Homo sapiens: one gene and its partner. The protein of the gene in region 1 purifies or fractionates together with the protein of each later gene. This does not show direct contact. Each region holds a gene or a part of one and is shown in the gene's direction. Other genes may lie near its edges. The genes, in order: FAM78A and ADD1.

Region 1 (3,908 bases):
AATGTCGTTTGTTCAAGGAGAGGCTCAGCTCCCCGAGCAGCTGCAGAGACAGGGAGCGAGGGGGAGCGAGGGATTACCAGGGGGAGGGCGGGCTGTGTGCGGGGAGCGAGGGTGGAGAGCCAGGCGGGCGGGGAGGAGGAGGCGGCGCCCGCCCGCCGCCGCCGCCGCCGCCTGCGGACCTGCATCCCCGCGGGGCCGGCGAGCGGGCGGCGGTCCCTGCGTGCGCCGGCTGCGCTCGGCCGGCGGCGGCGGCGAGCGGACGCGGGGGCCGGGCCGGCGCAGGGGCCGAGTTTCTGCAAAGTTTGACCCGGTTGCCTTTCCGATGCTGCAGCAGAGCGAGGCAGCGCGGGGCGCGCCAGGCGGCAGCGGCGCGGCGGCGGGGCTGAGCGGCGACAGCGCGCTCACAATGATCATAAAATAAAGGAGGCGCGCGGGGTGGGGGCGAGAGAGCCCCGAGCCTCAGCCCTCCGCCCCCGGCCGCCCCCCCGAAGCCCCAAGCCGGGAGGAGGGTGGGGGCCGGGGGCGCCCACGCCGGCCCCAGACTCCAGTAGAGCCAAGGGACAGTGCCCGGGGAAGGGGGTGGGGGCGCCCCAAGAACGTGCCCGCGGCCGGGTCAGGGGCGTCCGGAGAGCGGCTGCCCGGGCCAGCGGAGTGGCCCCCGGGGCAGGTGAGTCGGCGGCGCCGCCCGAGTGGGGGCGTGCGCGCCAAAGTTCCCCGGCAGCGGCGAGCGCGCCCGACGCGTGGGGACCCGGGGCTGCTCGCGGCTGGAGAGGGGCGACAGAGGCGCTTGACGCGGCGGAGCGGGGGCACTATGCCCTCCGAGGGCCGAGGGACCCCAGCCGGGAAAGGGGTGCCCGCCGGATCCGACGGCACTGGTGGGTGGCCCTGCGCCCAGGGAGCCGGAGGGACCGGGGTGGGGAAGGGGCACCTGGCGCTGGCGGCGCGGCGGTGGGGACAGAGCAGGGCAAGTGCTCGCCGCCCCCTGCAGCGGCAGCCGCTCGCCCCCCACCCCGCCCGTCCGGGACGGTATCAGCGGAGATGTCACGGGCGGCTATTATTCGCTGGTGCGCGCGGTCGTGCGGCCGCCACTGACGGGGCGGGCGCGGGGGGCGGGGGCCACCGCCTCCGGGGAGACCGCCCAGAGCTGCGCCGTCAGCTCCGCAGCCCGCGCCCAGCGCACACGCGTCGCCGCCCCCGCGCGCCCCCCGCAGCAAAGTTCGGCTTAACTTTGAGGCTGGCCTTGACGCGCTGTCCCTTCCACCTCCCACCAGGTCCTCGGCGGCCGCGGCGAAGCAGGCGGCGGCGGCCGGAGCGCAGCCCCGGGACCCTGCACGGCGGCCGGCAGCGACAGCGGCGAAGGGACGCGGCGCCCCTGCGTGGGGACGTCCGGCCCGCGCCCGCGAGTGGGCGCCGACGGGGACCCGCGCCGCGCTCCCCCGTCACCGGCGAGCGGCCGGAGCCCTGAGCTCGCCTCCTGGAAGCCGCGGGTCGGCGCTCGCCCCGAGGGCGCCGGGACCTCGGCCGGGTGAACACAAACTGCTCTGCAATTGATTCGACCGCGCCGGGCGGGTGCGGGTGCGGGGCCCGGAGGGAGCGCGTGCGGAAGGCCGGAGGGCAGGAAGTCAGGCTTCTGCCGCGAGGGTGGCGCGGCCGCGCGGGGACAGAGCCTTCCTTATTTATGAGTCTGCCGGCGCTCGCCTGCTTCCTCCGAAGACTTCAGGGAGAGTCTGCGAGCTGCCGTCCCCGCGTGTGAGGCACAGAAGGGCTGGATGTCAGAACCGCATAATTATTCATTAAACTACAAACTTTTTTTAACCCAAAGAATATCGGTGATTTTTGTCCACTGCGAGGAGAAGAAGAGAGAGCCCAGGGCTCATGAAATGCAGCAGAATCCTTATTTATAAACAGGCCGCGGTAGTGATATATGCAACCCCAGTCTACTCAGTGAGTTTTCTATCCTATGGATATCGGTCTTGAGAGTTGAGATTGGAGAGCAGCGCCGTCTGTACTGGGTCCTGCAGCCTCTGTCCTTTCAATGCCTGGTTTTTTCTGTGACTGCTGGCCTTCCCTGGAGATCAGAGCGCTCCTGTATGCCATGGGCTGTATTCAGAGCATCGGAGGCAAAGCCAGAGTCTTCCGGGAAGGGATCACGGTGATTGATGTGAAAGCCTCCATCGACCCCGTCCCCACTAGCATCGATGAGTCCTCCAGCGTGGTGCTCCGCTACCGGACACCCCACTTCCGGGCCTCGGCCCAGGTGGTCATGCCGCCCATCCCCAAGAAGGAGACTTGGGTAGTTGGCTGGATCCAGGCGTGCAGCCACATGGAGTTCTACAACCAGTACGGCGAGCAGGGCATGTGAGTACGGCCGAGAGCCAGCTCTGGGAACTGCTAGGGATGGCCGAGCTTGGAGGCCTGGTGGGGGGCCGCGGATAGGGGGAAGGTGGAGATACCATGAAGACAGGACGGAGGCCAGAGGGAAGCTTTAGGCAGGTATGCAGGTGGCCTCATTGGCCCGGTGGCTCCCTGAAAAGTTTGCCTGTGGATCCAGATTGGAGTCACGGTCCTGCAATCTACCCTGCCACTGTTCCCCCCGGGTTCCTGTGTCCTTCCCTGCAAGATGCCGAGAAAGCAGAGAGACATTACTCCCAGTGTTTCCTGGCAGAGCAAGTGTGCCGTCCGCCTGAGGAGTGTCTGTGCCATCAGGGGTCACCAGAGAGGCTGCAGGGCTGCCCTCCAGGCCTCTGGCCCTGTGCGGGCCCATGGCAGACATTCAGGCACTCTGCAACTCCCAGACCGGTGTGTTCAGGGCTTTGCGATTGGGCCTCAATTATCTTTCTGGCTTTTACCAGTGTATGCCAGGAGCTGGGGGAGTGCTTCCCCGTTCCAAACGGCACTGTGTTTGAGAGCACAGTTAGTTTTAGAAGCCCGATTTCTTCACAGTGTATCGCTTTCTGTCTCCAAGGCAGAAGACCGCTTTATGCAGACAAGTCCAGTGTCCCTCTGGCGAGGCCCTAACAGGAACAGCAAAGAGGAGCCTCTCCTCTGCAGCCCCAAAGCCCGGTCTCCAGAGTGTGCCTAGGGTATTGGGGGTCCCGGTGAGGACCCTGGGACCCTGGGGCTCCTTTCCTGGCCTGCTTCCTGACCCCAGAGAAGGCCGTCCCCAGGGTGAAAAGAGCTGCATTTAGGCAGAGTTGGGAGAGTGACTTAATCTGAAGGTTCACCCTAAGACAGGGATGGTGAAAATAGCTGTTTCTGAGCGTAAGGACCCTTTGGAGAGAGCTAGGCAGGCCCCGGCGGGCAGCCCACCCATGCGGCCCCGTGACTGGCCGCTGACACTCCCAGAACCTCTCTCAGTGTCTACCCTGTGGCCCCGTGACTGGCCGCTGACACTCCCAGAGCCTCTCTCAGTGTCTACCCTGTGCAGCTTCACGTCCCCGTTTTGCAAGTGGGGAAAAGAGGAGAATTTCCCCAGGAGCTGGAACTTATCACAGATTTAAGAATCTCATGGGCCACCTGTAAATGAGAGGGGTGGAGGATGGCGGGACACCAAGTCTGGTGGCTTCTCTACTTAATGACTCCAAAGTTCTAAAGGAAACATGAGGATCACAGTAACCCTTAAGTCCAGCGTGTGACAGTGACTGTCCCAAAGAGGTACATGGGGGGCACATCTAGAGGCTCTCACCGGCCCTCTCCACCAGCCTGATTTCTGTGCCAACCCCTTTGTGTCTCAAGAGCAGCTAGTAATCCAGTTCGGGGGAGGGGGTGCTGCCTTTCTGTTCTAAGCAGGGAAACATGATTCTTAGTTATGCAGTGAGGACCTTTTCTAAGAACGCTTAAGCCCAGAAACCTCCTCGGGCTTTGAAGGCATCGGGACAGTTGTAGAAACAAAAGTTTTCCTCGGGGTT
Region 2 (3,808 bases), on another chromosome or scaffold:
GAACTCTGGCCAGTGCAGGAGGACCAGACAACTTAGTCCTGCTGAATCCTGAGAAGTACAAAGCCAAGTCCCGTTCCCCAGGGTCTCCGGTAGGGGAAGGCACTGGATCGCCTCCCAAGTGGCAGATTGGTGAGCAGGAATTTGAAGCCCTCATGCGGATGCTCGATAATCTGGTAAGAATGGTGCCACCACTTGATGATAAACCTTTTGTTCTAAAAGCATCAGTGTTGGTGTTCTTACAGCAAGTGCGATTGCTGTCTTTTATGCAGTATCTGAATACCTTCACCTTCAAAGTCATGAAGAAGCACTAGGGTTGTTTAACTTCTGAGGTAAATTACAATAAAATGTAGAGGTGAAGGATTCCTGGTATTGTTTTATTTTTTAAAGATAACCTTGTGTTTGGACTCAGTGGGGACAAGAGCACAGAGAATGCGTAGGCAGCTGGATGACCAGCTGTGTCAGCTCAGTCCCCACCATCCCACAAGCAAGCGAGAGAGGTGGCACTTTTGAAATCGGTCAGTCAGGTATTTAGGCTTTTGTCTTAACAGCAAATCCTGGCTGTCTGGGGCCTGATGACTGTGTTCCATGGGTATCCACTCCCTGTCCACAGCGTGGGAGCCCCTCAGCTGCTTATTGCAGGGACACAGAGCCCGGCATGGTCCAGAAGGCGGGCTTATGGGGCCTGCAGCACACAGGGAAAGTGAGCCCACACTGTGATAGGAGGGCAGACACACAGGATGTGTTCTGTGTTACAGGGTTGCCGTGAAGAATTTCATTCTTTTGCAAGGACTGGAGAGAAAATTTTATGTGGAAGGTAGCCCTTGGAAATGACCTCAAAGAATAGGTAGGATCTTAGCCTGCGTTTGAAAGCCTGGAAAAAAACAGGATGACAGGATGAAGAGGCCACAGCACAGCTGCAGACAATGGGAGTGGGGAGATGGGAACATGCAACGTACGGTGCACCTTTCAGGTTCATCTTGACTTTACCAGGATCATTAAATACTCAGTTCTTAGAGCTGTATTAGAACACTGCCCTTGGGGTCTCAGTCCCGCAGCCACATCATCAGACACAGGGCTCTGGAACAGATCCCTTCCATGCTGCACATCAGACCTCTTAGATGGGGGTCACGATGGTCCGTCCTAACGCCACATGACCTCAAGTGGTGTAGATGTGAGGACATGTCAGTGTGGGGAAAGAAGGCCTCAGAGGGGCCAGTATCCTTGTATGCTGCCAGCCAGTACTGGACAAGTGGGCACGTTCCAGCCTAAGACAGGCGTGGCCCTTGGACCAGATCACAGATGAGATGGGTGGCTTCAGGAAGCAGGGTGGCTTCAGGAGGCAGGAAGTTTAACTTTCCTGAAGGTTTGGAATAAAAAGTATTCATAGGTCTGATTCAGGCTATGTTAAATGTTCTTACTGAAATTCTTTGCACTTGGGATGAATATTGTCCGCTAGAAAGGAGGAACTGAGGGTTTTCTGCCTGGGCGCGATAGTCAGTCAGTGGAGTAGACTCAATCAGTGACACAGGGACGAACAGAGAAGGCAGAGTCTAGCGTAACTTTTTGAGTTCATATAATCAGTGAGGTTGATTGCATTAATTGACTGTCTACTGTTGAGTCATGAACAGGACACAGTTCTTGCCCTCAGGAGTTTATGACCTAATAAGAGAGATGGACAAACGATTCCCAAATGAGCCCTGCCCCTGTGATCTGTGCAGTCATAGGCATGATGAGAGCTTGCAGGCAGAGGTGGGTGCCGATTGGTCAAGGAGGTAGGAAGAGGAGCAAAAGCTCATGAAGAAGGCTGAAGAAGCAGTTAGAGTTGGGTGGCCAGCCAGGGTAGTGAAGCTGCAGGGACTCATAGATGGAGAAAGCTTGAGAGTGGGGCAGCCATGGCCCAGGTGTGCGTCAGGAGCCAGGTCATCCAGCATGGCTGTGCAAGGTAAGGAGGGCTGAGGTTGGCCCAGTCACACAGCCCCTGCCTCCTGGTAAATACGGCGACATTTTGCTGCTCTTCTACTTACAGTCAGTGTGAGGGAGGAGAGAGGGGGGTCAGAATGCACAGCAGCCACCAAAGACTGTGCTGAAAGCACATCCTAGAAGGCGGAGAGGGGGAAGTCAAAATCAGGTAGAAACTCTGATTTGGTAGGGAAGGAAGATAAGGATGAATGATTAATAAGTAAAACATTCATTACAAAAAGCATGATGAATGTTTACTCAGTGTCCTTAATGTGTACAGATTGTTTTAATATTAGAAGGCCATATAGTTTATAAGAAATAAACTAGACAGCAATCACTAATCATAGTCCATGTTTTAATTTAGCATCGGGGTTGGCATATATGTTGTTTGCTAATAACTGAGTAGAGAATAGTTGCCAATTTCCACACTATAATATATGTTGCAGCCGAGCACAGTGGCTCACTCCTGTGATCCCAGCACTTCAGGAGGCTGAGGTGGGAGACCAGGAGCTTAAGACCAGCCTGGGCAACATAGCGAGATTCCTCTCCACAAAAAATAAAAAAATTTCAAAAAGAGAGATAATATTTCATTTGAACTTCTACAGTTAGAAAAAAAATGCTAAATTGTCCCCCCCCCAAAAAAAATCAAGATATAATTTCAGTTTCTCAAAGAAGGAACAAATCCATATATATTTTCTCTTTCTTTTTTTTTTTGGAGAGACAGGATGTCATCATGTTGCCTAGGCTGGTGTTGAACTCCTGGGCTGAAGCAGTCCTCCCACCTCAGCCTCCCAAAGTGCTAGGATTATGGGTGTAAACTACCACGCCTGACCCAAATCCATGTTTTTAACTACAAGCCAGATAGTAGTTCTGAGGTCTGAGTATTACTTCTGGTTTTGGTTTAACAGCATTTAAAGGGGAAGAATAAAGAAAAATCCATATGGTTTCAGGATAAAATGATGTTGATGAGTCCTGGGTGGTTTATTCTGAAGTTGTGGAGATTACTGAGTTCTGGCTCTTTAAGCAAAAGGAAACTTGAATTAATAAGAACTGTGTTTTTCTGCAGATAGTCTTTATGGCAGAGTCATTCTCTTTTATTATTCCTCAACAAAGCATGCTCAGAAATGGGAAAACTGCCAGTACACACATTTACCTTATCTTTCTGAGGACAATTATGAAAATAAAACCCAAAACAACTCCATTCATGATTGTTATTACCTTTTTAAAAAAATGTAGGCCGGTCACGATGGCTGATGCCTGTCATCCCAGCACTTTGGGAGGCCAAGGCAGGTGGATCACCTGAAGTCAGGAGTTCAAGACCAGCCTGGCCAACATGGTGAAACCCCTTCTCTACAAAAATTAGCCAGGTGTGGTGGAGGGTGCCTGTAATCCCAGCTACTCGGGAGGCTGAGGTAGAAGAAGCACTTGAACCCGGGAGGCAGAGGTTGCAGTGAGCCAAGGTCGAGCCACAGCACTTCAGCCTGGGTGACAGAGCAAGACTCCATCTCAAAAAAATAAAAGGAGGCCGGGCGTGGTGGCTCATATCTATAATCCCAGCACTTTGGGAGGCTGAGGCAGGTGGGTCATGAGGTCAGGAGATTGAGACCGTCCTGGCTAATACAGTGAAACTCCGTCTCTACTAAAAATGCAAAAAATTAGCCGGGTGTGGTGGCACGTGCCTGTGGTCCCAGCTATTCAGGAGGCTGAGGCAGGAGAATAGTGTGAACCTGGGAGGCGGAGGTTGCAGTGAGCCAAGATGGCGCCACTGCACTCCAGCCTGGGCAATGGAGTGAGACTCTGTCTCAAAAAAAAAAAATTAAATTAAAAAAATAAAAAAAATATTGAAAGA

What was found.
Region 2: the proteins of FAM78A (region 1) and ADD1 purify together in Homo sapiens (affinity purification with mass spectrometry, with the first as the bait; one large-scale study listed by BioGRID). This does not show direct contact.

What each region holds. Positions count from the first base shown.
Region 1 is NC_000009.12:131,274,307-131,278,214, reverse strand, and holds the start of FAM78A (protein FAM78A), read left to right. Parts: upstream 1-1,704; 5' UTR 1,705-2,035; coding exon 2,036-2,358; intron 2,359-3,908.
Region 2 is NC_000004.12:2,899,263-2,903,070, forward strand, and holds part of ADD1 (alpha-adducin), read left to right. Parts: coding exon 1-173; intron 174-3,808. UniProt on the Homo sapiens protein: Membrane-cytoskeleton-associated protein that promotes the assembly of the spectrin-actin network. Binds to calmodulin.